4 separate regions of the Homo sapiens genome follow, and regions 1, 2 and 3 are each reported to be linked to region 4. Evidence: microRNA targets listed by miRTarBase, many of them from high-throughput screens and not tested one by one. Region 4 holds a microRNA gene; each other region holds the end of a gene's coding sequence.

Region 1 (8,184 bases), not on the chromosome of region 4:
TGCAGCACAAGTGCTGAGAAAAGAGGCAGCTTTCCAATAGTTCTGTTTGGAAGCCTTGATATGTTTGGGTGAACCCTAAGAATAAGGAAGGTGAGAAATTCAAGTTCACTTATCACCACATTGCCCCAGGGTCTCATTACCCCACGCTAGGGGGAGTACCCCAGGCAACAAACACACCATTGTGGGATACCCGTGATGACTCACAGGTACATTACATGTGTGTTTGTGGTAACCAACTGGAGTCTGGGAAAAATATTTATGCATGGTATTGAAATTTTAGAGAAATTGTGTTTGATACGTAAGGAGTATTCACTGGAAAAATTAGATGAATATGTGGAATATTCAAACTATTTATGGTTTTCAGTGTAATTTCAGACTCAGAAATGTATCTTTTTATAAATATTTTGGTACTTCTACTTGACACAAAGTAAATTTACAAATTTTTCTACTTTGTAAGAAAAAGGATTCCTGCATGTTGATGTGAGGTACAAACGCCATTAAAGAAATCTACAACTGAACCAGGAATGAAGAACGGAACAAAATTCTTAACCATTCGGTTTTCAATGACAGCATTATGATTTTGTTTGCTCTGTGGTTTTGTTTGTTGAGATTTTGAATGTAGTTTCCCATTAATATTAAAGAATGAGAATGATTTTGGAAACTCATTCCAAAATCATTGTATTTTGGAAACAAGAAATATGTGTGAGGGGCTGGGCGTGGTGGCTCACGCCTGTAATCCCAGCACTGTGGGAGGCCGAAGTGGGCAGATCATGAGGTGAGGAGAATGGGACCATCCTGGCCAACATGGTGAAACTCCGTCTCTACTAAAAATACAAAAAAAAAATTAGCTGGGTGTGGTGGCACGCGCCTGTAATCCCAGCTACTTGGGAGGCTGAGGCAGGAGAATCTCTTGAACCTGGTAGGTAGAGATTGCAGTGAGCCAAGATTGTGCCACTGCACTCCAGCCTGGGTGACAGAGCAAGACTCCATCTCAAAAAAAAAAGAAAAGAAATATATGTGAAGAAAAGTTGCCAATTTGTACTTACTGATATCTTCAGAGAACTCATTTTTAAGAAAAACTTTAATAAAAGGTAAAGAATGTTTAAGCTCGTAAGCTGTTCTTTATTTTTATTCATAGGTAACCTCAGTCTCTTGTTTAAGTCAGTAACTTATTTAGTGGTGTCTTCTTTCTTAAGGTCAGCCACACCCTTAGAAAAATTACCAATGAAAGTTGAAAAATTGCTCCCTTAATTGTAGCATTAGTTCAAGAATTTTTTTGAAAGAATAGTGCCATATGTATTAAAGAGATTTTTGAGGAACAAAAAAACACAGTCAAAAATTTGAGGGCAATATACTACTACTGATTTTACTCTAGAAATGAACCAAATTATTTTTAGTTGCTGTAGAGGTACTCCACTAAATCTGTAAACATGTTTTTTTGTTTTGTTTTGTTTTTTGCGTCTGCAGCGCAAATCCAGAAAAACCCTGTGCATCATCATTCTTATCCTTGTCATTGGAGTTGCGATTATCAGTCTCATCATATGGGGATTGAACCACTGAAGTTATAAAGGAGCACACTGTCGCACTACATTGTCTAAATTATGTAGGAAGATTCCTGTAATCATGTTTTTTTAATTATTATTTTAAAGCTATTGTATAAAGGATGGTTCCCATACTTTGTTATTTTTATTGGGGGGGTTGGGGTGGTTCCTTTGGATTAAATCTGATATTTTCTAATACTGAAAGATTTTCTAAATGTCACTGCTGACATAACTCCCTTGGTCTTCAATTTAATAGTTGTTAAGTTTTTGCCCACATTGCATATGCCTTTCATTTATAATTTATTTACCCTGCTTGACTTAGTTTTGGGAATTCGTAAATTTAAAGGTGTGTGTATTCTGTTTGCATCTCCCTGTCACTGTGACACACCTAGATGTGTGTTACTTCAATTAAAATTCTCAAATTTAATTTTGATTTGCTTCAGCAGGGAAAATATTCTCAATAATGTAAAATAATTAAGGTCTATACATGGGTTGTATTTTTCTGGTTCACAACAGCACAAAGTGTCTTTCATTTTTTTGTTGGTTTTCTTTTAAGATCTTTTTTACCCTGAAGTCGGTGAATACTTTTCTAGTTTATTTGATACTCTTTCTGTGTATATATTAAGCTTTTGCTGTAGATTGCCTAGTAAAATTACTAAGGATAGGTTGTTTTTACATATGGTCTATTTAAGTCTGATGTTTACGGGGGAAAGTGTAGTTACTAAAAATGTTTAACATAATTTGGAAGAAGAGTATGAACAACCAATACCAATACCTATTGCGTTTGGATTCTTAAGACCCCAGTTTGTTATTCCACTAAACTAGTTATCTTAACCATATCATCTGGTTTTGTGGGCCATTATTTACCTTCCCTTATGTCTTATAGAATAATGGTTAATATTTTTAGGTCAAAATTACTTTTGGAAAGTAACTTTCCCACAATTAACTGTTTTTGAGCACCTGACAAAATTTAGTGTTTACCTTGCGTGCCATTTTGTGTCATCCTTCATTAAAAAAGCAATTGGAGGTTTGCCAGTTATCTCACTTCCCTTTTTAAATCAATGTTGTTTTAATGCACTAATCTGAATTCTGTAAAGAGGATTATCTTAGTTTATACTTTGTATTTTATAATGTTCTTGTATAGCAGCTCGGTACTGAAGGCGGTGTTTAACTTGGCAAGCTCTGAGACTTCAAATGGGAACAAATAGTAAGTAGCTAAGTAAACCACATCTTTGCAACCAAAATAAAGATGAGTTAAAAGGTATCTGGTTAGGCCTATTTCATGAGGACTATGCTCTGGTGGGACCACAGGTCACCTGATACTTAGTGCTGTGCTGCCTGAAACCTCAGCATGGAGACATCACCACATGCACTGTGGCCATTCAGCATCTTTCTGGAGCACCAGTTCACTCCAGGTTTTTATTTTAGGGTGTCATCGATTTTACCTACTTTGTCAGACTGGTAGAAGTTGCTTTGCATATCAGAAAAACTCCATTTTTTTCCACAAAAGGGATTACAGAAAACTCTTTTGTGAGTGAGTGATTGGAACTTAGAGACTCCTGTTGCCAGAATCAGACTGCCCTAGAACAGAATGGACAATGCAGGGAGGAGAATTCACACAAACAGCACCTGTTCTGAGGCCTGTGCCAGCCCACCAGGCCTGCTCAAATGTGGTCTTTACTTCAAGTGCACAGAGGCACATGAGGTTTCTGGTGATAAACCAGCGTCTTACCGCTGTTTTAAAGTCCCATCCCCATGGCTTTCACAATCAGTTCCGTTTTTTTTGCTGTACTTGATAAAATGTTTATTCTCATACAGGTCAAGTACATTTACTTCTATTCACAGTGAGTACCCAATAACAACAAAAGCGCTTACAAATTTGGGGGGCGTGATTTTAGTACCTTTATTTGAAGTGTAATCATTTTAAATTATTATTATTTTAACTGGGGCAGTTATCAGTGGTTTAAACAGGAACTTTAGTGGCTTCAATTTGTTTAAGAAACATATTAAGTTTGAGGGAAAAATTTCCCATGAAATATTTGGAACGTAAGAGTAGTATTGATTAGAGAAAATTAAATAAGAAACATAGTATGGTAGCCAAATTTTTTAAAAAATCTTGAACTTTTCTGTAGGTCAGTTTTAGAACTGCTGTGAAAAGTGAAGGTTGCCCTGTGGAGATTAAAATTAGAGTTGTTTTCATAACTGACAGCATGGTGAATCCATTTGAGTCAAAGTGAAGAATTTCCTCATCAAGTGACTATACATTTGTTTTTGTGTGCTCAAAAGAAATACTCAAACACAGACTGATATTAACCAGCCAGGTAAATTGAACGACAATGTGGCATTAGGTATTTGGCTGTTTATTGGTCGTTAAATACTATGGTTTTGCAATATGATTGATGGTAAAAGAGTGATGTCATATTGATACTAGAGTAGCTTGTTTTTTTAGTAGGTGTGGGACCATCTCTTTTACAAGTGCAACTCAGTCTAGGACAGCCATGGATGCAGTGTCTGGAGTTGGACCCTCTGAGCCCGCTGGCTGCCCCAGTAGCATCTGCATTGGTGACCAAGGACACTGCACTTTGAAGAGGTCGCCACTGGGTTATTTAGTGTCTTCACTGCTTTTGTTAAAAATTGTAAAATTTTGTACACAAAAAGTTGTGTTTTTGAATATCAATTGTTTAGACACACCTACAATGATAAATAAGTGCCTTTAAAGGCCCCTCTTTCCATGAAATACATCTGTGGTTTAGCAAGGAAAGTACAAAATAGTTTATGTAGTTGGTATAATTTTTATTTGTGTCTTCATGTAGAAAAAATGAATGTCATAATAAAATATAAAACTTACGTAAAGAAAATAAAGTCATTGTCCACCTTAATAGCTAAGGTCCACAAGGGTAACTTATGCAGCATTTATTTTTTTTGAAAGTCAAAATTGAATTTATTTCTTTCACATGGCTGGTTTGCTGCAATATGAAGTTTCAGAATGGGCTGAAGTAAGTTGATTGAGGGATTTGAGTTGAATGACATTTTCAAGTTCATTTAAATATGATAAAAATTCATTGGTGGTAAATAACATCTGTCTTTCCTGGAAAAAAAAAAGTTGTGTATTTTCATGATTCAGTTAAAACAAAAAATGAGCCTGTGAATCCCAGGCCTTTTTAGTCCTCCATAACATTTGAACAGTTTGACTTGTCAGCAAAGAAATACACTTATCAAATTTTAAACCAATGGGAGCCTGAAAGTGTTACAGTGTACTGCTTCTTTGACAAAATTCTGTTTAACAACTACCCTAACATAATTTATAAATCAATTAAGATAAAACCATTTTTTTCTGAGTATTTAGGAATTTGTGTCCTCAAAATACTGTGACATGAAAGATAGGAAAGAAATTACCTGGTTGCCAGACATGCACGATTATCTTTCCTCATTTCAGCTGGATTTTCCAAAGTCAGTAGATTGGATAAAGCAGCATCTCATTCACTGAGGTCACAAGATAGGTAGGAAACTTCTTTAATGTGAATTTTGCATATTTTAACAATTCAGTTAGAAAAACAGAAACCACTTGATGGATTATAAGTGTAAAGTGTTTTAACATAGGGAATTAGACATCAAAAGGGTGGGTGAGGAAGGTGTCTGCGGCCCCAAAGTGGGTGGATCTCAGGAGCTGGCCCAGGCACTGCTGTGACTCTTGAGAACATCCAGAAGGCTGTGCTGTTGGCGTGCAGCACTGACAGTGTGTCTCAGGGAGCTGTCCCCAGCTGTCAGCTGTTAATAGCTCCAAAGCCAGTGCCTTGCAAGAGATTTTGAAACTGCTGTGAAACTCATGTCCTCTGCCCGCCTACACTTCTGTCTGCAGTGGCCTCTGAGGAAAGATGGTCTCTCCTTTTCTCATGGTCAACTCTCAACTTAGAACCAGAGACAGAAGGAGTTTGTGGGAAGTGTGGTTTCTGGTCTACCTGCACTGCAGAGGACATTCTAGAAAGAGAAGTGAGTTGACAGTCTAGCATAATTGTGAAACAAACACTGAGATGTACAGTTCAAACCACGTGAAGTGGAAGCCTCAGAATTTTCCTCACTTTCATTAAAGATTCTTTGATGGAAAAATTTAGAAGCATTGGCTCTAGATGGTAAGCAAGTCATTTTTTTCCAACCAAAATAAAAAATACATATACTAAGCTTCTGGGGCCCCAGGACTTAACACAGTTTCCTTCCTTCCTTCCCTTCTTCCTTCCCTCCCGTAGTAGTTGCTTAATAAATACTTAATTTGGCACTTATTTGGGGCCGGCTTTTTGCCAGGCTACTACATGCCTGGGCATAGTGTTCTAAGAGTGAACCAAAAGAATAAGCTTCCTGCCCTCAGGGAGTTTATGTTTTGTTATTTGGCATATAAAAAGAACTTGGTGTGTTAAAAGAAGGGAAATAGCTGTGTGAAAGGAATGAGGCAAGGAAGAAAGGGAATGTCTAAATATAAATCTCCGTTTGGACCAGCCTCCTGTTTATCCAGTTTTCCTTACTAAGTAACTGAATTTCATTTTCTTTTCTTAATTGACAGACTACCAGAAAATTGCTAGTTTTCTAAAGAGAAACTACTGATTTGAGTGATGATCTGTGTGTAATGGCTCCAAAAAGGAGCCGTTCTCTTGGTGGCAGCAGTTGGATTCAGAGCTTGGGCATCCTGATCATCAGGACAGACATTTACAGGATATGTATAGAATTACTGCCCCAAATAGAGGGCAAAGCACTAGACAGAAGGGTGAGATCCAAGGGGAATTTGGAATCTATATTTCATCAGAATGCACTCAAAGCAAAAACAGTAAGTATGCTCCATATAAAGAAATGTTTCTTAAAATGTTTTTAATTTAACCCTACCCATCCCTTGGCAAATCTTTTTCTTTTAAATCAAATAGGAATAAAGAAGAAAATCTTCCTATTGGCCCATTTTCTCATTATTCAAATACCATATCAATACACCAATTTTAATTCTTTGTTTTTGTAATCATTTGGTTAACATGAATATTATGTAATATTTTTCTCCAAATAATCCTAATTTTAAATGCAGAAATAGAGCTAAATAACACACTAAATAGGTTTTTGTAGACACTGTAGCTTCTGGCAAGTTTTTAAGAGGTTGGTCACTTAATTGCTTAGAGTGGGATTCCCGTAGGTTTTGTGTAGTGATGGCATTTATGCTTAAAATGTAAGTGGTGGAAGGCAAAACCAGATTTCCTGTCCAGTCGTTACACGCACAACACCTCTACTTGTTGACGAGGGAGTTTTCTAGAACTGAATTGAATCTTTAAATAAACTTGAAAGGGCATTAATTCCCACTTTGGCCAACCCAAAGTACAAATTTTTAAGTGTTTACTGTAAGTATCGTTAGGCAGTAGTTACTAACTCCAACACCTAATAGCATTGGTAGAAAGCTTATAAATGCAGTTATTTAGCCTCGACTAAGATTTTTCTGATACCTAGTTTCACTTTTTAATGCCCTCTGAAAGTTTTTTGATCAGTTGTTTAATGGGAGATCTGAAATGTTAAACTCAGACCAGAAAGAAGAGAACCTGTTTTCTAGAAATTAGGTTTTTAATCCAAGTAAGATGCAAGCTTTTGCTTTTTTAATAACTTGTATAGCTAAAAACTTGACGGTGAAAAGCTCTCAGATCAAAGCTGATCCTTCTGTCAGTAATGATTCTAAAAATAAGCAAGATTTTAATGGGGAATATATTTTATTTCATTCTTATCTCAAACCTAGGTACTGTGGTCGTTTTGAGTTCATTTCGAGGCATTTTCAATGTGCCTCAGGCCACATCCAACCTCTTCCCAGGGCCAGATTTAATGTTCAGCCTCATAAAGGTTATCATAGTTTTAACATTTAAGTACTATTTTGCAGTGGGTATATACCAAAATTTGCTAATAGTAAGATAACCTTAGTTATATATCATTCACGTTAGTTCTATCTTGGAGGCAATAAACATTTCTTGTTCAAGAAATTCATGTTCTATCTTGGAGGCAATAAACAAACATTTTTTGTTCAAAATTAGGGCTACCCTATTGTCCTTATGTCTTTTCCTGATCTGTGGTCAAACATTTTTCTTAGTCATTTAGAAATTTTCTATGTTGTTTTAAATTTTCTTTAAATCTAGAATGGAGTATGTGACCAATACTTTCCTTTGGAATGGTATGGACATTTGAAATAGAGCCCATTCTTTATAAAGTATAAAATATGTTTAATGCTAGTATTTTTAACTAAACTTTTGAGAAACTAGATTCACATGCTGTTGTAAGAAATAATACAGAGACCTCTTTCGTGTACCTTTCACTTTGTTTCCCACACAGTGAACATCTTTCAAAACTGTCATACAATATCATACCCAGGATACTGACACTGGTATAGCTAAGATAGAGAACGTTTCCACACAGAACTTTTTCTAGCACAGGGATCCCTCATCTTGCTTTTGATGACCATACCCACTTCACTCCCATCCCTACTCCCTTCTTAACCCTTGGCAACCATAATCTGTTCTCCATTTTTATAGTTTTTTTTTTTTTCATTTCAATAAAGCTGTATAACTGGAATCATAATAATATGTAACCTTTTGGGATTGGCTTTTTTTCATTTAGCATGATTTTCTGGAGGTTA
Region 2 (8,184 bases), not on the chromosome of region 4:
GCACATTCCTCCCCTGGGCCTTTGACTGGATGTGCACCAGATTTCCTGCCAGCCTGACTGTCTTGCTTGGATCTGCAGAGAGCCTGTTACCTATCCATAAACCCCCAAAAGGATGAGACGCTAGAGACAGAGAAAGCTCAGTACTACCTGCCTGATGGCAGCACCATTGAGGTAGGTGGCCTGCCTTCTTTCTTCGGTCCCCTTAGGTCCACAAAAGCTCTGGGCCCAACCAGAATTCTCCATCAGGGTCTGGAGTCTGGCAGGCCAGTCCCTTTACACCAAGCTTGTCCAACCCCTGGCCCATGGGCTGCACGTGGCCCAGGATGGCTTTCAGTAAGGCCCAACACAAAGTCGTAAACTTTCTTAAAACATTATGAGATTCTTTTGCAATTTTTTTTTTTAGCTCAGCAGCTGTCATTAGTGTTAGTGTATATTATGTGTGGCCCAAGACAATTCTTCTTCCAATGTGGCCCAGGGAAGCCAAAAGACTGGACACCCCAGCCTTACACCCTCTCTCTGGAGCAGCAGAGCTCCTGAGCATGAGTGGCCCTGTCTCCTGCAGAGGAGGCAGCCAGAACTTTGCTCCCTCCCGCTAGAGGGGAGGAAGCTCCTAAGGGATTGTCCCACATCAGTATGAGATTAGGAAGTGGGATGGTTAGTGCCATCCTTCACCACACCTGGGTGCAGTGTAGGGTGAGTTACCACTCCCTTGAACCCCCATTGCTAGGAAGACGTTTCCATGAGCAAATAAATCCATGTACTGATGCCAAAGACCTCTTGGCTGGAAAATGCCAGAGCGAGAAGGAAATATAGGAGCCTCCCCTCACTAGTTTCCAGGAGGCCTATCTTTGTTCCTTTAAGCCCTTGACATGTAGAGTCTGTCTTGAGCCTGGCCTTCATAGCCACCCAGTTACTAAGTGACGTGCAGAGGGGCGTCTTCCATTCCCACTCCCAAAGGGACCTTGGTCCCAGCTCCGACCTCTTCAGCTGGCCCTCCTACCTGCAGATTGGTCCTTCCCGATTCCGGGCCCCTGAGTTGCTCTTCAGGCCAGATTTGATTGGAGAGGAGAGTGAAGGCATCCACGAGGTCCTGGTGTTCGCCATTCAGAAGTCAGACATGGACCTGCGGCGCACGCTTTTCTCTAACATTGTCCTCTCAGGAGGCTCTACCCTGTTCAAAGGTTTGTCTCTTCTCTTGGAGCCCTTCCCCTGGAAGTGTTCAGCTCCTGCTGGCTCCAGGCACCCTGAGAATTGACTTGAAGTTCTCCTCTTTGCCCATTCAGGTTTTGGTGACAGGCTCCTGAGTGAAGTGAAGAAACTAGCTCCAAAAGATGTGAAGATCAGGGTAGGAGCATGGTGGGGCCTGGCCTGGGTGGAACTAGGCTTCCATGGACAGAGTGCCACCTGGCGTAGCTTCCCTCTAGCTTTGCCCAAGCTCTTCAAGCAGCCATGGCTCTACAAGCAGCGCCAGGTTCCCAGCCTGTACACTGACCCTGAGGTCTAGGTCAGCCACAGGGAGGCTGAGTTCTCATTCTCCCTCTTCACACCAAAGGCAGGCAGTTCTAATACCCAGATGAGGCAGGGTACTAGGTAGAGGGCCCCCTGCGTGATCTTTCAGGGAAACTATAATCTTAAGAGGAGACTGACTTACTGTTGCTGTGCCCCCTGCCCAGGTGGCTCCCCTGTCACACAGTCTGACACCTTAGTGATAGGTGAAGGAGGTTGGCTGTCTGAGGAGAGCGGGGATCCTAAAGGAAGGAGTACAGTTCTTGCCATGGAGTCTGCTTCTCCCTGCCCCCCCCAATAGTCCCAGCTTCCCTGGGACCTGTGGGGACTGGAAACCTGCTTCCCCAGATGAGTGGCAGGCTGGCCACAGTGCCCTCCAGAGAGGCCAGAGCTTCAGGCTTGTGTAAAATGTATCCCCTGCCATGGGCAGAAAGAGGAGCATTGTAGGGAAAGGGAGCGGGAGGGCTGGAAGTCTCAGATTCCTCTTTCCCCCACCTTTGCAGATATCTGCACCTCAGGAGAGACTGTATTCCACGTGGATTGGGTGAGTAGCTCTTCCAGGAGTAAGAACAGAACAGGAAGTGATGGCACTGATAACCCCTCAGCACCCTCTAAAGAAAAGCCTGATTTGGTTTGGCCCCAGGGGACTGGTAGGCTCCACACACAGCCACTTCTCTCTCACACAGTTCCTCTGGGTTTCCTCCCTCCAGGGGCTCCATCCTTGCCTCCCTGGACACCTTTAAGAAGATGTGGGTCTCCAAAAAGGAATATGAGGAAGACGGTGCCCGATCCATCCACAGAAAAACCTTCTAATGTCGGGACATCATCTTCACCTCTCTCTGAAGTTAACTCCACTTTAAAACTCGCTTTCTTGAGTCGGAGTGTTTGCGAGGAACTGCCTGTGTGTGAGTGCGTGTGTGGATATGAGTGTGTGTGCACATGCGAGTGCCGTGTGGCCCTGGGACCCTGGGCCCAGAAAGGACGATGAACTACCTGCAGTGGTGATGGCCTGAGGCCTGGGGTTGACCACTAACTGGCTCCTGACAGGGAAGAGCGCTGGCAGAGGCTGTGCTCCCTCCTCAGGTGGCCTCTGGCTGGCTGTGGGGGACTCCGTTTACTACCACAGGGAGACAGAGGGAGGTAAGCCATCCCCCGGGAGACCTTGCTGCTGACCATCCTAGGCTGGGCTGGCCCCACCCTCACCCCCACCCCCAGGGTGCCCTGAGGCCCCAGGCAGCTGCTGCCTCCACTATCGATGCCTCCTGACTGCACACTGAGGACTGGGACTGGGGTTGAGTTCTGTCTGGTTTTGTTGCCATTTTGGTTTGGGAGGCTGGAAAAGCACCCCAAGAGCTATTACAGAGACTGGAGTCAGGAGAGAGCAGGAGGCCCTCATGTTCACCAGGGAACAGGACCACACCGGCCACTGGAGGAGGGCAGGAGCAGTCCTCACTCTGAATGGCTGCAGAGTTAATGTTCCCAGCCCAGTCCCCTTTCGGGGGCCTTGGGAGAGTTTAAGGCACCTGCTGGTTCCAGGACCTCGCTTTCCATCTGTTCTTGTTGCAATGCCATCTTCAAACCGTTTTATTTATTGAAGTGTTTGTTCAGTTAGGGGCTGGAGAGAGGGAGCTTGCTGCCTCCTGCCTTGCTACACTAATGTTTACAGCACCTAAGCTTAGCCTCCAGGGCCCCACCTCTCCCAGCTGATGGTGAGCTGACAGTGTCCACAGGTTCCAGGACCATTTGAGATTGGAAGCTACACTCAAAGACACTCCCACCAGGCTCTTTCTCCCTTTTCCTCTTGCTCACTGCCCTGGAATCAACAGGCTGGTTGCTGGTTAGATTTTCTGAAACAGGAGGTAAAATTTTTCTTTGGCAGAGGCCCCTAAGCAAGGGAGGGGTGTTGGAGAGCCAGTGCCCTTAAGACTGGAGAAAGCTGCAATTTACCAAGTTGCCTTTTGCCACTGTAGCTGACCAGGGGACTAGGTTGTAGAGGTGGGAAGGCCCCCTCTGGGCTGATCTTGTGCCATTCTTGACCTTGGACCTGCTTGGTTAAGGAGGGAGTGGGCCAGACCAGAGTGCCAGGAGCTAATGGAGCCAGGCCTGACTCCTAGGAGTGGTCCAAAGGCCTTCAGCCTAGATGGTGCAAAGCTGGGGCCAGCCTGTCTTCACCGGCACCCTCACCTGTGACACCAAGACCCACCCCAATCCCAGACTTCACACAGTATTCTCCCCCACGCCGTCCTATGACCAAAGGCCCCTGCCAGGTGTGGGCCACAGCAGCAGGTATGTGTGAAAGCAACGTAGCGCCCCGCGGACTGCAGTGCGCTTAACCAACTCACCTCCCTTCTCTTAGCCCAAGCCTGTCCCTCGCACAGCCTCGCACAAACCACATTGCCTGGTGGGGCCCAGTGTACTGAAATAAAGTCGTTCCGATAGACACGTCAGCTGGGCCTCTATCTGTCTGTCACCAGGGCCAAGTGGAAAGAGGAAGAGCAGCAGGCACTGAATCTGAGGTGGTGACTGGGCCTGATCCATCCTCTAGAGGGCATCATTGCACCAGCCAGCCTTGTCCAGAGCATAGCCCAAGTCCCAGCCTGTCAGGTGGATGCAGAGAAAAGGGTGATCACACCACAGCCTAAGTTCAAGAACAGAAGGTCCCACTCCTGTGTACACTGTAGCCCATGGGTGAGACTCAACTCCAGATGACAGGAGCAGCTCTCAACATCCCTGAAATCAAAGATTCTCAAAACTGTCAAGTGAATAAGAAGGCCAGGAGCTTGGCCGGGCACGGTGGCTCACGCCACACCTGTAATCCCAGCACTTTGGGAGGCCAAGGCAAGTGCATCATAAGGTCAGGAGTTCAAGACCAGCCTGGCCAAGATGGTGAGATCCCGTCTCTACTAAAAACTACAAAAATTAGCCGGGCGTGGTGGCAGGCGCCTGTAATCCCAGCTACTCAGGAGGCTGACGCAGGAGAATCGCTTGAACCCGGGCAGTAGAGGTTGCAGTGAGCTGAGATCGCACCAGCCTGGGCGACAGAGTAAGACTCTGTCTCAAAAAAAAAAAAAAAAAAAAGAAGAAGGCCAGGAGCTTATTACAGTGCAGTTTCCAGGGCCCATACTCAGATATCCTGATTAATCACTTCTCCGTTTAAAACCTGCACTTGGGAGGAAAATTGCCAGGTCTTTGCCAAATGGTAACTATTTAATCTTCCCAATAACCTTACAAAATATACGTGCTTTTGTTGTCCATTTTACAGATAAGGATTTGGAGCCACAGAAAGATTAAGCAATTTTCCAAAGTTCTGCCTTTTTTTTTTTTTTTTTTTTTTTTTGAGATCATGTCTCACTTTGTCACCAGGCTAGAGTACAGAGGCACAATCTCAATCTCCGCTCACTGCAACCTCTGCCTCCTGGGTTCAAGCAATTCTCCTGCCTCAGCCTCCCAAGTATCTGGGATTACAGGTGCCTGCCACTGTGCCCAGCTAATTTTCATATTTTTAATAAAGATGGGGTTTGACCATGTTGGCCAAGCTAGTCTCGAACTTCTGACCTCAGGTGATCTGCCTGCCTCGGCCTCCCAAAGTGCTGGGATTACAGGTGTGAGCCACCGTGCCCAGCGCTGGCCTTTCTTAATCCCGAATGTAAACCCAGGCCATAGAACCTACAGCCTACATTTTTAATCACCATGCAGCCTGTAAAAAACCATTGGCCTAGAGCAGTGGTTCCCAATTGGAACCAATTTTGCCTCCCAGGACACATCTGGCAATGCCTGGAGATGTATTTGTTTGTCGCAACTGGTGTGTGTGTGGGGTGGGGTGGGGGGTGCTAAATGTCTACAACAGAGAACAATCTGGCCCCAAATATCTCCAGTGCTAGTGCCAAGGTTGAGAAATGGTGGCTGAGAGTCATGGTTTTCAGTGCCAGCTGCATGATAAAATCACCTACAGAGATGTTCAAAATCCTACTGCCCAGGCCATACCCCAGACACATTAAGTCAGAATCCCAAGGAATGGAACTGAGATGTCAGTATTTTTTAAGTTCCCCAGGGGACCCCAAGGCTGAGAACCTCGGGCCTAAAAGAGGCTCCTCTCTCTTTGACTACCATGTCCAGCAGTGATACATGGGAAATGCACTGAGGCCTAATGGTCATTTTGGGCCCGAGTGCCTATGCAGTTACCAATCTATGTTTTTCTCCCTGGCATCTTGGTAACCCACCAAGGTGGGTTTTTTTTTTCTTTGAGATGGAGTCTCATTCTGTCGCCCAGGTTGGAGTGCATGCAGTGGCGCGATCAATGCAACCTCCTCCTCCTGGGTTCAAGCGATTCTCCTGCCCCAGCCTCCCAAGTAGCTGGGATTACAGGCACACACCACTACACCTGGCTAATTTTTGTATTTTTAGTAGAGATGGGGTTTTGCCATGTTGGCTCAGGCTGGTCTCAAACTCCAGACCTCAGGTGATCCACCCACCTCGGCTTCCCAAAGTGCTGGGATTACAGGCATGAGCCACTGCGCCCGGCCTACCTACCACTCTTATTCAGAAAAATGCTCTCAGGGGCTTTTTCTAGTCAGTAAGGAATCCTGGTTCTCAACCCCAGCAACCCACCACTCACTCACACAGCACAGACTTGAGGAAAAAGAATGGCTGACTTTAATCAGTCTATAAGGAAATAAACATCTTTAGAGGCCGTGTGGGGGTGGGGGAGCCCTGCAGCAGAGGAGGCATGCCACTTCAAGCACAGCTGAAGCAGAGAAACCTCTCAGAGAAACCACTAGAAGGGTGGACGGAGTGGGAGGTGGGACTTACAGTCAGCTTTCCCTGACTGGGCAAAAGGGAGCAGTTGCAGTATTAAAAGTGGTTCCTGAGTCCACCACAGCGGCCAGCTCCAGTCAGGCAGCGGGATGGGCTCCCACGCCCCATGGCAGGCCTGTGTGCACCACAGGGCAGCCCCCTCCCTTCTTGGTCCTCTTCTGTCCTCCTGCCTTACAAGAGAAGCACGTCCCTGAGCACATATGGCCCAGCCCTTGCCCAAGCTGAGCCAGACAGGTAAGCAGAGACTTTCACTGCAGTGATGCTTCTGGCTCAGCCCCAGGAGCTACCCGCTGCCATGTCTTCCAGGCTGCACTAGAGGAAGGCAGTGGAGCAGGGTGCTGGTAAAACTAGCTCCTGGCCGAGTGCGGTGGCTCATGCCTGTATTCCCAGCACTTTGGGAGACCAAGGCAGGCAGATCACTTGAGGTCAGGAGTTCGAGACCAGCCTGGCCAATGTGGTGAAACCCTGTCTCTACTAAATAATACAAAAATTAGGTTGGCCACAGTGGCTCACGCCTGTAATCCCAGCACTCTGGGAGGCCGAGGCGGGCTGATCACCTAAGGTCAGGGGTTTGAGACTAGCCTGGCCAACATGATGAAACCCTGTCTCTACTAAAAATACAAAAAGTAGCCGGGCATGGTGGCACGCTCCTATAATCCCACCTACTCGGGAGGCTGAGGCAGGATAATTGCTTGAACCTGGGTGGTGGTTTCAGTGAGCCCAGATTGCACCACTGCAACAGATCCATTTTTTTGGGCAACAGCTCCAAAAAAAAAAAAAAAAAACTATGAAATCCTTAAAAAAAAAACCAAAAAAAACTGGCTCCTTCCCCAGGCTGCCAGCAGCATCCTCAGTGGGGTGACCTTGCCACAGCTCTCACACCATCTTAACATCCAGGGTTTGGGCCTGTGACAGGTTCTGGCGCTGGGCCTTGACCATGTGCAGGCGTCTCCCATGCAGCGTGAACTGGGACCAGGTGAAGAGCTGCAGCAGAGCACAGGTGATGGGCACCAGCACCAGCAGGTAGAAGCAGCCCTGGCGGAGCGTCGGGGCCTGTGCAGGGGCTGGAGCTGGGGGCTCTGGCCAGGGATGGGCACTCCCCACAGGGGTTATGAGGGACTGCTGGAAGAGGTCATGACCTAGGACAAGAGAGCACAGAAAGACCATGGTCAGCCCACTGTCCTCCAAGCCTTGGTGCCCTCCAAGTCTATGGTGTGACATCTCAGACACCACATGGACGTGTCCAGACCACAACTCCTGATTCCTCCAAACCCACTCCTCTCCTACTCTTCCCATCTCAGTGACGGGCACCACCATCCACCCAATAACTCAGGCCCAAAACCTCAAAGTCCTCCTCAGTTCCCTGGTTGGTTTCACGCCATCACTCCCCAACACCCAATCCTTCATCTCCCCCCAACTCCAAAACGTATCCCACCTGCCACCACCCTGGCCCAAGTCTCCACGGCCTCTGCCAGTCTCCCAAAGATGTCCCTGCTGTCCCCATTCTGGCCTCCCTATGATCTGCTGTCCATATGGCAGCCAGAGTGAACTTTTTTTTTTTTGGAAAGAGGGAGTCTCGCTCTGTCACCTAGGCTGGAGTGAAGTAGCACGATCTCCACTCACTGCAACCTCGGCCTCCCAGTTTCAAGCGATTCTCCTGCCTCAGCTTCCCAAATAGCTGGGGCTACAGGCATGCGCCACCACACCCAGCTAATTTTTGTATTTTTTAGTAGAGGCGGGGGTTTCACTATATGTTGACCAGGCTGGTCTCAAACTCCTGACCTCAGGTGATCTGCCCTCCTCAGCCTCCCAAAGTGCTGGGATTACAGGTGTGAGCCACCTCACCCAGCCCAGAGTGAATTT
Region 3 (8,184 bases), not on the chromosome of region 4:
AAATGTATATGGTGCCTTTGGCAGTGACTCTGAAAGACTGAACATTTCTACTTGCTGTGAACAAGAACTGACATTTAACCAGACACATCTCCTGACACCAACATGTATGTTTTTCCTTTCTTGATTTTATTTCATTAACTCTCACCACATCTTCACTACCCTGAATGCTAGAACTCTGGAGGTAGTTACATTTCTGACCTTTAACACCACTGACTTTCACAAAAATTAAAACATTTCTCCCAAATTTCAAACACTACCAATTCCTGCATAGACTCAGGGTAGTCTTGTTTGAATTTCTCATTGCTTCTAGATGTCACTTGGAAGTCCAAGCCCTAATGTGATCTTTTTCTACCTGCCAGAAACGCGGCGCTCCTATGATGACATTCATCAGCCTCATTAGTCATGCTTTGGGAAGCATAGAGGGGAAAAAAAGATAAAAACCTTTGTAAAAGTTACTCTGAGTCAGAGACCTGATAATGAGACACAGAATACATTTTATATATTTCAAACTTCTTGGAGATAGAAATGTTGCATCTTTTTAACAAATGCATTAATAAAAAATTACCCCAGTTGTTTTCAATGTTGTACAGGGACCAGGCAGAAAGGATCATGTTCTTTGCATTTCCTCTCTGAGAAGAAAGTATCCCAGTAATTGCTTTGCATCAAAGAAAAGACACATTTTTTTTTTAAATAATGCTGGAAATTGCTAAGTATGAGGAAGTGGAGACTTTCAAGATAGCCATATTTTGAAAGTTATTTAATACTGAATAAAATGGAGAATTTGAAGAATCTTGACTTTATTAAATAGACAATGAATTCAGAGGTGATTTCTTCTGAGTTGGAGTTCTGGAAATAAAAACAACTTGCCAATGATAGAACTTCTGAAAAGGAAAATCCCAATATTGTTCTAGTCTTAGACTGGTGGGGACTAAGTTAGAAGCATCTGATAAATAAAAGCACAAATTTTTAGGAAAAATTAGTTTTGAGTCCATTTTTCCTTTTTGCTGCACTAATGCTATACTACCATCATCATCACTGTTATTATCACCATCATCACCACCACCACCACCACCATCATCATCATCATCATCATCAGTATTTGTGGATCAGGCACTGTGCCAAGTACACATTTTGCATGGTCTCATTTAGTCCTCTCCAATGATATATCAATATCAGCCTCATTTTACAGTTGAGATAACAAAGCTGTAATAGAAATTAGGTAGCTTGCCCAAGATCACACAGATGCCAAAAGGGAGAGCCAGGATTCAAACTCAGACTGTTTGGTTCCAAAGATCTTATTCTATGCCTCTTTTCTCTAGATTATCCCTCATAAGGAACCAAATTCATTCTAATAAGCTAGTAAGCTATTATATCCCTGTCCCCTTTTTTAATACCTTGTGTAGCCTTCTGAATATTTTATTTCCTACAATTTTAAAAACTTCCATATGATGGGACACTCAATACATTTTTTTTTTACAACTGGAATACATTCAGAGAGATGGAAATTCTAATTTTTTTTTTAAAAAAGGCTACAGATTCTATTGTATATATTCTTTGAATATTTCAAACTCTCTTGGCTATCTCTAAGTCCCACTTCTGTACTCCATACTGTAGGATAGACCTCTCCCCTTACCTTCCTGAAATATCTCCCTATTTTGCAAAGCAACAAAGCTTCCCTTACGTTTTTTTCTTTTACTGAATTTTAAGAAAATTCTGATTAATTTAAATCAGTAAAATAATTAAATTAAACTAAATTAGGTAAACTTCAATTTTAGATAAATAAAAATGTAAAGAATCATCTAAATTTCAGGTCTCTTCTCATACTCAATACAAAATGTAAGATGTATAGAAGAGGAATGTAGGAAGGAACTGATAATCCTCCCCCCCGTTCATTCTCCCTTTCCTCATTTTAATAATAAAATCTCTGTCCCAGGTTTTAGAAGGCATGGCTGCTCAGCAAGAGGTTCCTCTGCAGTTAATTTCTTACCAAAAGAATATACAAACTTGATGTGTGCAACTTCTATCTCATTTTATTCAAATGTATGTGCTTGCCCTTTACTTTTCTCTTCTCCATCCCACAGGTTGACCACTATGAAGAGGACACTCTAGGGAATGGCAGAATAAATGGTAGAATAAGTATAATAATAATATAAAATAATAATAGAGTAAAAATAATGGTAGAATAAATATAAGTCCCTGGACAATTTCATGGGCTACCTCCTGATGGCTACAAGAAAGAAAATAAATTATCTTATTGGAACTACAGTATTTGGGGGTTTCTCTGTTACAGTGGCTTAGCCGACACCCTAATAGTTTTAAATTCAGTACCAGAATATTATGGACTAAGTTGTAGACCCCCAAAATTTATAGGTTGAAGGCCAAAGCCCCAATGTAACTATATTGGAAGATAGGGCCTTTCAGGAGATAATTAAGGTTAAATGAAATCATAGAGAGGGGCCCTAATCTTATAAGACTGGTGTCCTTATAAGAGAACACTGGAACACACAGGGAGACATTAGGGGCACAAGTGCCTAGTGTAAGGACACAGCAAGAAGGGAGCCATCTGCAAGCCAAGGAGAGAGGCCTCAGGAGAAACCAAACTTGCCAACACTTTGACCTTGAACTTTTGGCCCTCAGAACTGTTAAAAAACAAATTTTGGTTGTTTAAGCCACCCAGTCTTTGCTATTTGTTATGCAGCTCTAGCTGACTGATACGTAGGAATGGAAAAGTGCCATCATAACAAAAATCTAAAATATGTGGCTCTGGTATTGTGTTGCCAGGCAACCGGCAGTGTGGAAACAGATATTGCAGGATGAAAAACTAGAGACCCTTGTTATGTTTTGACCAATCACTAGGTAAAACTGACACCAGCAACAATTTGAAAGGCAGACTAGCTATGGGGAAAGCAGTTAGAACCAGAGTGGTTAATGTATATTGGTGGCTCCTTGCTGATGTTTTTAGTGAGGTACTATCAAAAGTAGTTGCTGTAAGATCAAAAAATAAAAAGTTTGCAAGTAGATAACACCATGCCCTGAAGTACAATTGCTTCTGCATTCAAGGGAGCAGGAGATGTGACTATTATTCAGTTTTGTTCAATAGTCACCACTGTGGCTGGGTGCAGAGGCTCACGCCTGTAATCTCAGCACTTTGGGACGCCGAGATGGGGGGATCACCAAAGGTCAGGAGTTCACGATCAACCTGGCCAACATAGTGAAACCCTGTCTTTACTAAAAAATACAAAAATTAGCCAGCAGAAGCCTGTAATCTAAGTTATTCAGGAGGCTGAGGCAAGAAAATTGCTTGAACCGGGAGGCAGGGGTTGCAGTGAGCCAAGATTACGCCACTGCATTCCAGCCTGAGTGACAGAGCAAGACTCCGTCTCAAAAAAAAAAAAAAAAAAAAGTCTCCATTGTGTTACTGGTCAGACAATGGGAGTCATTTCGGCAGAAAAGATCAGATGAAGAATGTTGCATCACCACTTAAACTCATTGTTGGAGAAGACTTCAAGATGGCTGCCATTAATTTGAGGGACAGAGGTATGGGCCAGGCACAGTGACTAATAAATAACACATTGCTGGCTTAAAGAACTATAACTAGAACAGCTCTTTGGCTGTGGCTACTTTCACATGAACTGACTGAAAGCAAATGAACCAGAAACCTCTAGTATTTTTGATAAAATGATGTCACCAATGCTATGATGACCCTTAAGATGTCAGATGAACTTCCTCCTCCCAAAATTCATAGAAAATTACCACGAATTCAGTTCGGATGCTGAGACTGATAATGCCACACACACAAGAAATGGGTATAAAAAGGTTTATTACTCACATACTGAGACTTTCCAGGGAGATAGGGCAGGCTCCCAGGAGGGTCGAGAAACGGCTTAATTGGTTTGGCTTTTATCCGTCTTAGAGTGTGAGGCTGGGGTGAAGCTTCCTGCATGCATGCCAGGGCTTGCGTGATTTGAACTTCCTGCTGGGGCCAAAGGAGGAGGCACCCATGCTTCCATCAGCTTGCCCAGATGTGCAGCATAAGGGAGAAGGGAAAGGTGAGTCTTGAAAGATGTCAGCAGTCAAACATTAAAAACGGCATTGACGTCTTTATTACAGTCAAATGAACTAAAACCCCGGCCTATAAAAGCGTATATTTTTCAGTCTCTAAGGCAATCTAGGTCTAAAAGTCTGCACCAGCAAGCAGGGGCTGCAAAAGCTGCGATGTCCCTCAAAAGTTTCAGACGGGGCCACAGAAGCTGACGAGCAAGACTTTCCTAGAGGTCAAACTAGTGGCCACAGAAGACAATGGACAAGGGAGTTTCTCCTAGATAGCAGATTCATGATTTCACCAAGGAACACTTTCTGCTGGGCAAGGGATCTCCATCATGCCTGCTCAGCAGATTATCACGGCATGGGCCATTGGCTGCTATCATTTTTGTCTTTAACTCTAGTATTCATTCCCCTCTTTTTAGCTTTAGTAATAGAACCCTTTCCCTGGAGTTTTAGTAGGGCACATGTCCATCTAGTTAGAGACACGTCCCAGGCTTTCTTGAAGCTAGGTATAGCTATATAGTAAGTATTCATGAATGGACGGTGGGCAGAAGTGATGGCTGTAATTTCCTAAAAAGGAAATGGCTTGCTCCACCTTCTTCTTTTTTCACAGGCTAGGAAGTCTTGAGCCAGCTTTGACCATGGAAAGAACAATACCCTTGGGTATTAAGAGAACTAACAAGGTAGATGACTCCTATATCCCTTGAATACCTTGTGAAATGAAGCCACTTCTGGATTGCTATGTGAGAAAAAAATAAATTATCTTACATGAGCCATCATATTTTGGGGTCTCTTTGTTACAGCAGTTTAGATCATTTTCTGATTTATACAAAAAGAGAATGAAAACATTAAGAAGGTAAGCTTATTTACCTTTTATGACCTTAAAATGTCCTCTGCTTGTTCTTTTGGGTTTTACCTTTAACAAGTATAAATAAGGTGCTTCAAATTTAATTGGCTGTAAGCAAGTAAGACCTTAAGACTACATGTGACCTTATGAATTCAGTGTGCTTCTCCCCTTTTCCAAAAATCAACCTACAGAATACAGTTGCATATACTTTTTCGGGATAAATGGAAGCGTTTAGTGTAAATGCATGAATATCAAACTGATAAATGAAAACTAAGATTGATATATATCAACTTCCCCTTTTTTCAACACAAATGTATATCCATGCACTATTCTAATCTACTACTCTGTAATCAATTAATCATAGACAACTGAATAAAGATAAAATGGATAAAGCAGACTTCGTCTCCCATAATGTGATGCAGAGATGATTATTTCTCGGACTCCCAGTTTCGTGTTACTCTATGCTTCAGAATAGTTCACTGTGTTGCTAAGACAACAAGGATGCTGCAACCGGAAACTGGGATTGAAGTCAAGGCACTGGAGCTGCCTCAAAAGATGTCATAAATAGTGTGTTCAAGGCCTTTTTCACAGTGAAACTGTAACTTTTGAATTAGAAAAAAAATTATTGGAGCCAAGCACGGTGGTGCACACCAGTAACCCCAGATACTTGGGAGGCTGAGGGAGGGGGATCGCTTGAGCCCAGGAGCTTGAGGCTGCAGTGTGCTATGATCATACCTGTGAATAGCTACTGCACTCCATCCTGGGCAACATAGCAAGATACCCATCTGTTAAAAAACAAAACACAAAAATAAACAGAAGAAGATTATACTCAATTCAACACCTTTCCACAGACTATGATTTTCAGTTATTCACATTCTAAGATTAAGAAAACATTGGCCTGTAATCCCAGCACTTTGGGAGGTGAAGTGGGCAGATCACAAGGTCAGGAGATTGAGACCATCCTGGCTAACACGGTGAAACCCCGTCTCTACTAAAAATACAAAAAAATTAGCCAGGCGTGGTGGTGCGTGCCTGTAGTCCCAGCTACTCGGGAGGCTGAGGCAGAGGAATGACTTGAACCCAGGAGGTGGAGACTGTAGTGAGCCGAGATCGTGCCACTGCACTCCAGCCTGGCAACAGAGTGAGACACCATCTCAAAAAAAAAAAAAAAAAAGAAAAAAGAAAACATTGGTATGTGGACTAAAGGTCAGGAAACCATCACTCCATATATACATATTACAGCTCCATGGAAATAACTGAGGGGAACTTGTCTTTAAATTCCAGTTTACCTTTATTCTAATAGAGGCATGTCTGAAGAGTATCAGAAGAAAACAAATGAAATTAGGTTGTCAGTTTTTCCTCCACTAACGATGTACATCTCACCTAAACAAAGGTTTGATTCTATGTAGTAAATAGGTTTGATGTTCACTGAGACCTGCGATTTGATACTTGGAATTTGAGTTTATAAAAAGATACAAAGAAATATGGTCTTCTCAATCAACTTTTGATAAAGGCACAGAAAGCTCATCAGTAGCAATGATGTGAGCTGGGTTGCATCTCCAGGTTTGTCTAAGCAAACTGCACAATGGCAGCAATCCTCCTGGTTTTAATACTCATAACATCAAGGCAAGGACAAAGAAAAAAAAATGCTTGAACTGATTTTGTTGTTTTTTTCTGACCTACAAAAAAAAAAAAAAATGAAAACAGCGTTTCACTAAGCTGAAGAGTGTCCTTCACATCATGTATATTGTATTGCACACAAACTTTTTTAACTCCGTCAAAAACAACAAGAACAGATGAATAAGGAAGCCCAGTGCTTTTTGAGATAGAAGCCTTCTTCAGAATCACCTCCCTCTCTTAAGAAGTAATCTGGTGAAAAATAATGGTTAGGCAAAGGCAGGTGTTGGAGGATATGTTTTCCCAATCTTTTAGAATCTCTTGCTTAAGAGACACAGAGGTGACTGGAGACTGAGTTACCAGTATACTATTCATTTTCCAAGCAGACGTCAAAAGATACTCTTTAATAGTGGAAACTGAGGGTTACACAGTAAGGTTCAGACTTCAGCAGGAATCCTTGTTGTCAAGTAAAAGTTTAACCTAGCAGAAGCAAATGAGACCCAGATGTCCTCACCTTTTTTTTTTTTTTAAACCCTGGTGTTCTAAGCATAAAAAAGGAAATAGAAAATAACACAGACCACTCTATTTTAATATTTTTAAGTAGCATAAATCATAATGGTTTGTATACTACACTGTACAAATAATATACTGTTACTTTTGAAAGAAAATGAACTTCTTATAGGGTTTTCTGAAATAGTTACTCCATACAGCTAAGATCTTGACCCTTTAGCCATTGCTACAGCAGATGGAATACAAGCTTTGAGGTTCCAAGTCTTCCAGTTGTGCCTGTTTCTGTTGCCACTGAGGGATGAGCCTCTCAGAGCCCTGTCGTGGCCCTGTCCATCTCCTGCGCCAGGAAACACAGGTTCCGCAGGTGGACGCGTGCCGATGAGTACAGCTTCTGTACTTTGCTTTCTACAAGCCTCCTTCCCCTTTAAGAGAACTTGCGCTTCTTCATGGCTTCCGCCTTGACCGCCAAGCTCTTGGCACAGATGGTCAGGACCACAATGAGAACGCCCACCACAAATGTCACCAGGGGCCAGAGGAAGCAATGCAGGAGGACAATCTCATCATGAGTGCGATGCAGAAGCACATCATCTGGTCTGCAAGACAATGGAGAATAAGAAAGAAAGGGCAGTCAAATGCCTTGGCACTGAAAAACTCTTTACAACCTAAAGCCAAACTTGCTTTCCATAACCATTATTGAAAGTAAAGGCTGCACTCTGACTATAAACACTGTATTTTTGTGCTTCAAACCCATTACAGAAAGTTTTGAGCTCTTGAGTCAAGTAATTGGTGCAAATTTATGTATTAATTATAATTTACATGTTACAAAGTGTCAAAAATGTATCTCTTATGCTATGATTTTTCTTCATTCTAAGTTACTTAATGTATTCCACTTTCTCATTCATCCTCTAATGTCCATTGGTCAAGGGGCTTGAATCAGTCAAAAAATTACTGATGGGTGAGCATTCTCCAACAAATCTGAACTAGACCTCAGCTCATAGGTGTGGCCCAAATGATCTTAATTCAGATAAAAAAAAAAAAAGGTCAGTTAAAGCCACTGCTTGAATTTAGTCAGAAAGACAGCTGGTGTAATTCTCAGGGCAACTCAGCTTCACTATGTAAGCTACAGGTTTTTATTAATAAGCAGACAATGGCTGAATGAGTGCCTT
Region 4 (8,184 bases):
TTTTTTTTTTTTTTTTTTTTTGAAACAGGGTCTTGCTCTGTCACCCAGGCTGGAGTGCAGTGGTGTGATCTCAGCTCACTGCAACCTCCACCTCCTGGACTCAACCTATCCTCCCACGTCAGCCTCCTGAGTAACTGGGACTACAGGCCTGTGCCACCACATCTGGCTAATTTTTGTATTTTTTCTAGAGATAGGGTTTTGTCAAGTTGCCCCGGTTGGTGTCGAACTCCTGAGCTCAAGCAGTCTGCCTGCTTCGGCCTCTCAGAGTGCTGTAATTACAGGTGTCAGCCAAAGATAAACTCTGTATTTATTTATTTATTTTCTTGAGATGGAGTTTCACTCTTGTTGCCCAGGCTGGAGTGCAGTGATGTGATCTTGGCTCACAGCAGCCTCCACCTCCTGGGTTCAAGCAATTCCCTGCCTAAGCCTTCTGATTAGCTGGAATTATAGGCATGCACCACCATGCCCGGCTAATTTTTTTGTATTTTTGGTAGAGACGGAGTTTCTCCATGTTGGCCAGGCTGGTCTTGAACTCCTGAGCTCGGGTGATCCGCCCTCCTCAGCCTCCCAAAGTGCTGGGATTACAGACGTGAGCCACCATGCTCGGCCAAACTCTTTAAAGCATAATTCCCATGCCATTATCACCACCTTTAAAAAGTAATAGTTATTCCTTAGCAAAATCAAATATCTATTCAATATTCACATTTCTTAGACTTTTAAACCAAGTATGGTATTAATCAAATTGATTTGTAGAGATTTTGCCATTCTGCCAATAGGTGGTGCTACAGAGAGCTTTGTGGGAGGGGACTTCTGGTAGTTACGGTGAGTGAGGAAACCATTTAAACCTTCTTTGAAAATGTAAAAATGCTTTTATTAATGGATAGAAAGATTTTTTAAAATGAAGTTAACATTTTGACCTTTTTGGAGACTATTAGTAAACATTTTTGCTATACAGTTAATCTTTTGCTAGTTGACAAATTAAATCAAATGGTAGCAGTTTTCAACCTTATTTTGGGAATGGAGGAAGGGAGCTTTCTTGAGAGGAAGTAACTGTTAGCCATTTGTCGATAGATATATATATATAGAGAGAGAGAGAGATTTATTTTAGAGACAGGCTCTTGCTCTGTCGCCCAGGTTGGAGTGCACTGCCATGCTCATAGCTCACTGCAACCTTGAACTCTTGGGCTCAAGTGATCCTCCCACCTCAGCCTACCAAAATGCTGGGATTACAGGTTTGAACCACATACTTGGGCTTATTTTGAGAAAGTGTTTTCTGTGTTGTAAACTATATTATGTAAAATTAGGTATATCGCAATCTTTTTTTGGCAGTCTACGATAGTAATTTATTTTTTAAGCATTTTAAAAAATGGTGGAAATCAAGTTTGAATTGATTTTAACTATAGTTTAGTGAAGTATAATAGTTCTATGAAAGCTTTTATTACCAGTTTTGATCTAGGGTTGGTGTAAATTAGAAATTGGTATGAAATCTTTTGTAACATTGTTAAAAAATGCAACAATGCTCCTGATATTATCACTGCTCCCGATATTATTTATTAAGTTCTTCGCGGCTCCATTTTTACTTTGCCTTATTTGCTCTGAAATCTTTTAGTTCTTTAGTTGTTTTTTTGAGGGGAGGGTAAGGGAGGTATGTGAATGGCTACAAACATCCAAAAGAAACAAATGCATTTGGAAAATTGACTGTTCTAGAATACTTGTTCTGCTTTCTCTCACAAGACTTGATTTATGAATTAATTGCAGGAATTGTTAAAAAAGGTGAAATTTATTCCTGGATCAGCACTGAATGGCATGGTTGAAATGATGGACAGGCGGCCATATTGGTGTATATCAAGGCAAAGAGTTTGGGGTGTTCCAATTCCTGTGTTTCATCATAAGACCAAGGATGAATACTTGATCAACAGGTAGAATGCTTTCTAAAATTTTTTAGTGTTTTAAAGTGAAATATTTTTTCTTCAAAAATTGAAAAATAATGTGGATGATTAAGAACCGTTTATATATGTTAAATAAAATATGCTAAAATAGTCTTTTGGGGGACTAAAATATAAGTTCAAAACAATTCTATCATACAGTTAAAATATTAACTAGATTTTCTTAAATATTGATACTTAGAAGTAAAGTCTCTGACTTTTTTTCTATGAGAATTTATTGGGCTGTATTAAGGTATCATGGATCCAAAGATGGACAGTGTTTAGCAGGGGAGCCTGAAATGTATTTTTTCTAAAGGAATGAAGAGAATCACTCTCACATTCTGAGTCTGCTTTCCTTTTCAGTGGAAATGGGATTATGTAATTGTGTAGATACTTAAAATTTAAGAAATTGTAGTTAAATGCACATGATTACACTGATGATTATATTCCCAGTTTTTCCCTTTTTTTTTTTTTGAGTTGGAAAGGTAATAGATGGACATAGTGAACAATTCATAGTAGAAAAGCTTGTACACTGAAAAGTAGGCTTTTTCCTACTCCAGGTATCCAGAACCTTTTTTTGAGGCAGTCATTGTTTACAGCTGTTTCTGAATCTTTCCAGAAAAAATGAATTCTTCTGTCAGCACATACATATGTTTATACAAAAGAGAGTATCTCTATCTTCTGCTCTGTGCCTAGATTTTTTTCACTTTATGTGTTATGATTTATTCCAAATCACTACACATAGATCAGCCTCATTCTTAAGCTTTATTAAAGCATACTTTACATACTATAAAATTCATGGCCAGGTGCGGTGGCTCACGCCTGTAATCCCAGCCCTTTGGGAGGCCGAGGCTGGTGTATCATGAGGTCAGGAGTTCAAGACCAGCCTGGCCAAGATGGTGAAACTCCATCTCTACCGAAAATACAAAAATTAGCCAGGCATGGTGGCGCGGGCCTGTAATCTCAGCTACTCCGAAGGCTCAGGCAGAGAACTGCTTGAACCTGGGAGGCAGAGGTTGCAGTGAGCCAAGATCGTGCCACTGGACTCCAGCCTGGGTGACAGAGTGAGACTCTATCTCAAAAAAATTAAAAAAGAAAAATTCATTTATTATAAGTGATTTATAGTAAATTTGTTAAGTTTTACAGCCACTATCATAATTGTGTCTTAGAATAATTCTTTTATCCCGAACAGCTCCCTTTTGTGCTTTTCGAAAGAGAAGTTGCTTGGAAATCTGTGAGCTTTGGAGAATGGCAACTGAATTTGAACCCAGGCTTTGCCATTCACTGTGTGTGAGACTGAGGAATTTACTTAGCCTCTGGCTCCTCTATAAAATAGGAAAAGCAATGGTTGCAGGTAGACTGTTATGAATACTAAATAATAAATGCAAACTACTTGGTGTAAAGCACAGTATTCCATAGATGATGAGCTATTCATGTATTCACTTAAGAAACATTGTTATGTGGGCACAGTGGCTCATGCCTGTAATCCCAGCACTTTGGGAGGCCAAGGCGGCAGGATTGCTTGAAGCCAGCTGTTCAAGATTACAGTGAGACCCCATCTCTACAGAAAAATTTAAAAATTAGCTGGTGTGGTAGTGTGGGCCTGTAGTCCCAGCGACTTGGGAGGCTAAGGCGAGAGGATCGCTCAAGTCCAGGAGTTTGAGGTTATAGTGAGCTATGATCATGCCAATGCACTCCAGCCTGGATGACAGAGCAAGACACTGTCTCTTCAGAACGAAACAAAACAGAACACATTGTCAAGCACTTAGTACGTGTCAGTGCTAGGAACTGCTAGTTGCTACAGTGAACAAGACTGACATGGCCCCTGTTTTTAATGAGATAATAGTCTAGCTAGTTTATCTTCTAGTAATATTAGGGAGGCTTTGAGTGTTGTTGCTGTTTTTCACAGATGTGGAGAGGGGAATGTTAATTCTTCCTTTTAGGAACACATTCCAGATTTTCATTTTCTTTGAGCAATTTTTTTTAATTTGGTGAATGGAATTTTTTCTAAATTATGCTATTAAGAAGTTTAAACTTTTAAGTAGACTTGAGGAGTAAGAGTATGTTTTAGGAAAAGAAAGTAGAGGCTAGAGACTGGAAAGTCATTGGAAAGCTATTTCAATATTATTATAAGTTGGATCTGAGGTAAGACTTTAGGAATAATCTAAATATTGTTGCTGTGGTGTTCTTACAGAGCTTGGTCAGATGTAAACTACTAATATCTTAATACTTACATTAAGAATTAATGTAAATTCTGTCCAGTTCAGATTATTTTATTTTATTTTTGATACAGTCTCACTCTGTCACCCAGGCTGGAGTGCAGTGATGTGATCTTGGCTCACTACAACCTCCACCTCCCAGGTTCAAGTGATTCTCCCTCCTCAGCCTCCTGAGTAGCTGGGACTACAGGCACGCGCCACTGACTTGGCTAATTCTTGTATTTTTAGTAGAGATGGGCTCTTGCCACGTTGACGAGGCTGGTCTCGAACTCCTGGCCACAAAGGATCCATCCACCTCTGCCTCCCAGAGTGCTGAGATTACAGGCATGAGCTACCATGCCCAGCCTCAGACTTAGTTTAAAAGAAAAAGAATTAAAGTGATTATACCTGAGACGAGTTTCCACAAACATTTGTTTAAAATTTCACACTGGAAAGTTTTTTTTTTTTTTGGAAAGTTTTATAAGCCATGTCATTGTCTCCTCTTCTTTTTTTTTTTTTTTTTTTTTTTTGAGATGGAGTTTCACTCTTGTTTCCTAGGCTGGAGTGTAGTGGCACGATCTCAGCTCACTGCAATCTCCGCCTCCCAGGTTCAAGTGATTCTCCTGCCTCAGCCTCCTGAGTAGTTGGGATTAGAGGCATGTGCCACCACGCCCGGCTAATTTTATATATATATATTTTTTAGTAGAGACGGGGTTTCTCCATGTTGGTCAGGCTGGTCTCAAACTCCCGACCTCAAGTGATCCGCCCGCCTCAGCCTCCCAAAGTGCTGGGATTACAGGCGTGAGCCACTGTGCCCGGCTACTCTTCTTTTCACTATTTAGAGAGCAAGATGTCTAGGGAATTTCACTGAAGTGATTGAGGTGGGTGGGGATTCCTTGGTGGAATAGCCCTCTGGACTCTGAGGTGGATCATATGTATGTATTAGTAAATATAGCAAACTGGTTTAATTGATACATCCTGATAATTAAATGGTACATAGGTTGACTGGTCAGTAAGTTAGGTTAAATAAATATGAGCTTTGTCAGAAAAACACAAGTTTTCATTAGGTATATTTATGTTTTATTTACTCAATACATTTACATGGTAGTGTTACAGATTATCTTCTGTGTACCTGCCATTGCGTTGGTTGCGTGGTGTTAGTCGATTTCTGATATTGAAGTAGCACAGTCATACAGAATATTGGCCTAAAGAAATGACAGACAAACTCAGCTATATTGTCTGTCAATTCATAGGTCATTTTCCTGTATACCATTTCTGAATGATGACTTTAATCCTCTTCCATTATTGGATCTTTTTGGTGTTACAAAACTTGAATTTAAGAAAATTGATATTAATTCTTAATCATTTGTTAATTTTATAAAACAGGCTGAAAATCTTTTTTTCTGCTGGAATCAAATGAGAGTCCAAGTGACCACAATTTTCTGTCTTTCTTTATTATACCTTTATATTGTAGCAAGTTGGTAACCATCAAAAGTAACAGCATCTCCACTGGAAATTGGTACACAGTCCACATGGAGTTGCTGTTACACTTGATAACACCATTAAACATATAAGGAGATTCCTTTTGCTCATCATGGGAGCTGTACGATATCTCTAAGTATACTTGTTTCACAGAAGAAAGTCTCGATTTATTCATGTTCTAAATAAGTTTAGGGACTGGTAGATTTGAAACGCTGATGTTTTATTTTGATTTGAATTAATAGTGTCATTTGCATTTTAGATCATATTTGTATTTTATCAAGAAATAATTCCATTTCTGACTTTACTGTCATTGGTCATTTTTTGAATCTGTGAGATAATGCCATTAGAATTTGGGTTGAAATCTGTTACTAGTCAATAAAAACAGAAGAAATAATTTTTAGCATAAAAAAGATAAAATGTAGAAACACTGGCTACCTGGGAAGGAAAAGAAGTTGGTTAAATTTCTTTCATCATTTCAAACAGTTATAATCACTTTCATGCTATTAATGCTATAGTTAACATAGTGAAACTTAGCCCCTAACTTCTGGAAATTATGAGAAATTTAGTAAAAATAGCCAAGGAATTTCCAATATAATTTGAGTGTTAACTTTAGCTACCTCAAATTTTTTCTCAGTTAACAATAATAAACCTTTTGTTCAAAAAATTTATGTTCATTAAATAAAGAAAAATTTCTTCAAAATGGTTTTCTGTCAGCTTTAAAACATAAATCTAGGATTAAACTAAAAATAGAATTTCCCCTTCCAAATTTCACATTGTTCTAGAATTAAATTTAGTAAACAAATGTGAAACATTTAGCCTCTTACCTCATTCTTCTTCCAGTAAGTTACAGAAGAAAAGTTGTCTTAATAATCTTCAATATTTTTGCTTATAAAGGCAAAACACAGAAGACAGTGGGATGACAGCAGTCGTTTCTTTGTTGCTTTAGTAATCTTAATGCTGCTTAATGTCCATAACACGCTAAATAAGCCTCATTCCGGTTGATATCGAAGTTCAGAATGATTGGCTGATGTCATAGTTGCTCATGCTACCTAGTGGATTTTCACTGATTGAAACCTAAGAAGGGACACGTAATGCATGTGTTGAGATAAGGCCTTTGAGTAAAGTACAAGGTTTTATGATGGATTTATTGCTTTATGAAGTAAAGCATTAAGATGGAAGCATATAGATTACATACTGGTAAGTGGTTTCACCCACTTTTATCAGCAGTCGTTTATACTGATCTTTGGGTTATAGGTTAACTATGAGTTTGTGTTAAGTATACAATGTTAAAGAAATGAAGGTAGAATTCTTAAATTTCAGACAAATTAGGAATTTTCCTGCATTTTTTTCTGAAGAATATTAAATATCACAAGGAAATAGTTAGAAAATTGTTTAAAAATTTTTTTAGGAAACAGAAAATTATTTAAGAAATCTTTTAAGTATTATCTTGGTTTCATTATAAAAAAATTCCACTTCTAAGTATTTACCCAAAGGAAATAGGACTAATACCTCTTGTGTGAGGATATGTATATAAGATGTCCAATACAGTTGTTTATAAAGGAACATAATGATATACAAAAGAAGATGTAATTTAATTAGTTATAGAAGAATGAATATGTACCTGTTAAAAATGTCAGCTTAGCTCTTAATGGTTGCCTAGTTCCTTGTGTATGAAAATCAAATGAACATAACTTATCCAGTGTTTGGATTTTGTTAGATGTTTGTCACATCTCTATAATGAGTGTCTTTTGAGCACTTGTTCACAGTTAACTTTATATACTTTTTTCAAATTATCTTTTTAGATTTTGTTTGAACATTAAGTTTATCTTTGTTTTTATCATCATTATACCTAGCTCAAGTTTGTGGGTTATATGTCTGTTTATTTTTATTGCAATTTTTGTTTTCAAAGCTCTCTGTCACACTTTTTTTTTTTTTTTTGAGTTGGAGTCTTGCTCTTGTTCCCCAGGCTGGAGTGCAATGGTGGGATCTTGGCTAACTGCAACCTCTGCCTCCCAGCTTCAAGCGATTCTCCTTCTTCAGCCTCCCAAGTAGCTGGGATTACAGGCTTGCGCCACTATGCCTGGCTGATTTTTGTATATTTAGTAGAGATGGGGTTTCTTCATGTAGGTCAGGCTGGTCTCGAACTCCCCACCTCAGGTGATCCGCCCGCCTCGGCCTCCCAGAGTGCTGGGATTATAGGCGTGAACCACCGCGCCCGGCCTTTTTTTTTTTTGAGATGGAGTCTCACTCTGTTGCCAGGCTGGAGTGCAGTGGTGCAATCTCGGCTCACTGCATCTTCTGCCTCCTGGGTTCAAGTGATCCTCCTGCCTCAGCACCCCCCAAGTAGCTGAGACTATAGTCACGCACCACCATACCTGGGTAATTTTTGTATTTTTGTAGAGACCGGGTTTTGCCATGTTGCCCAGGCTGGTCTTGAAGTCCTTAGCTCAAATGATCCACCTATCTCAGCCTTCCAAAGTGCTAGGATTACAGGTGTGAGCCACCGTGCCCGCCCAAAATTAATTTATTCAATTGACAAAAATTGCTTATATTATGTACAACATGTTTTGAAATATGTA

The links. The annotated mature microRNA hsa-miR-215-5p reads AUGACCUAUGAAUUGACAGAC and lies in region 4 at 5,361-5,381, opposite strand. An mRNA with a match to its seed (bases 2 to 7 or 8) in the 3' UTR can be bound and repressed. Matches are read on the target gene's strand: a 7mer-m8 pairs with bases 2 to 8, a 7mer-A1 pairs with bases 2 to 7 and ends in A, and an 8mer does both.
Region 1: the mRNA of STX7 is a reported target of hsa-miR-215-5p. Seed matches in the 3' UTR shown: 8mer at 2,446-2,453, 7mer-A1 at 3,358-3,364 and 7mer-m8 at 3,671-3,677.
Region 2: miRTarBase lists SLC68A1 as a target of hsa-miR-215-5p. The part of its 3' UTR that is shown has no 7-base or 8-base seed match.
Region 3: miRTarBase lists KCNMB4 as a target of hsa-miR-215-5p. Seed matches in the 3' UTR shown: 7mer-m8 at 6,567-6,573.

Annotation. Positions count from the first base shown.
Region 1 is chr6:132,454,134-132,462,317 of GRCh38, reverse strand. STX7 (syntaxin 7) reads left to right here. Exons shown (of 10, transcript NM_003569.3): 10 at 1,468-8,184. The coding sequence ends at 1,560. Among named protein-coding and RNA genes, the nearest start is that of STX7, 55 kb to the left of the region's middle.
Region 2 is chr10:102,474,998-102,483,181 of GRCh38, reverse strand. It overlaps SLC68A1 (solute carrier family 68 member 1), which reads right to left. Exons shown (of 10, transcript NM_024789.4): 10 at 6,137-7,460. The coding sequence ends at 7,198. It overlaps ACTR1A (actin related protein 1A), which reads left to right. Exons shown (of 11, transcript NM_005736.4): 7 at 79-171; 8 at 1,007-1,181; 9 at 1,284-1,345; 10 at 2,010-2,050; 11 at 2,217-3,953. The coding sequence ends at 2,319. Among named protein-coding and RNA genes, the nearest start is that of SLC68A1, 18 kb to the right of the region's middle.
Region 3 is chr12:70,429,912-70,438,095 of GRCh38, reverse strand. It overlaps KCNMB4 (potassium calcium-activated channel subfamily M regulatory beta subunit 4), which reads right to left. Exons shown (of 3, transcript NM_014505.6): 3 at 3,804-7,611. The coding sequence ends at 7,443. Among named protein-coding and RNA genes, the nearest start is that of PTPRB-AS1, 34 kb to the left of the region's middle.
Region 4 is chr1:220,112,556-220,120,739 of GRCh38, forward strand. It overlaps MIR215 (microRNA 215), which reads right to left and starts at 5,407; the gene lies at 5,298-5,407. It overlaps IARS2 (isoleucyl-tRNA synthetase 2, mitochondrial), which reads left to right. Exons shown (of 23, transcript NM_018060.4): 12 at 1,759-1,919. MIR194-1 (microRNA 194-1) reads right to left here and starts at 5,686; the gene lies at 5,602-5,686. It overlaps LOC124904515 (a long non-coding RNA gene), which reads right to left and starts at 6,558. Exons shown (of 2, transcript XR_007066883.1): 1 at 6,430-6,558; 2 at 5,187-5,328. It also overlaps LOC105373475. RefSeq lists an enhancer at 2,118-2,287.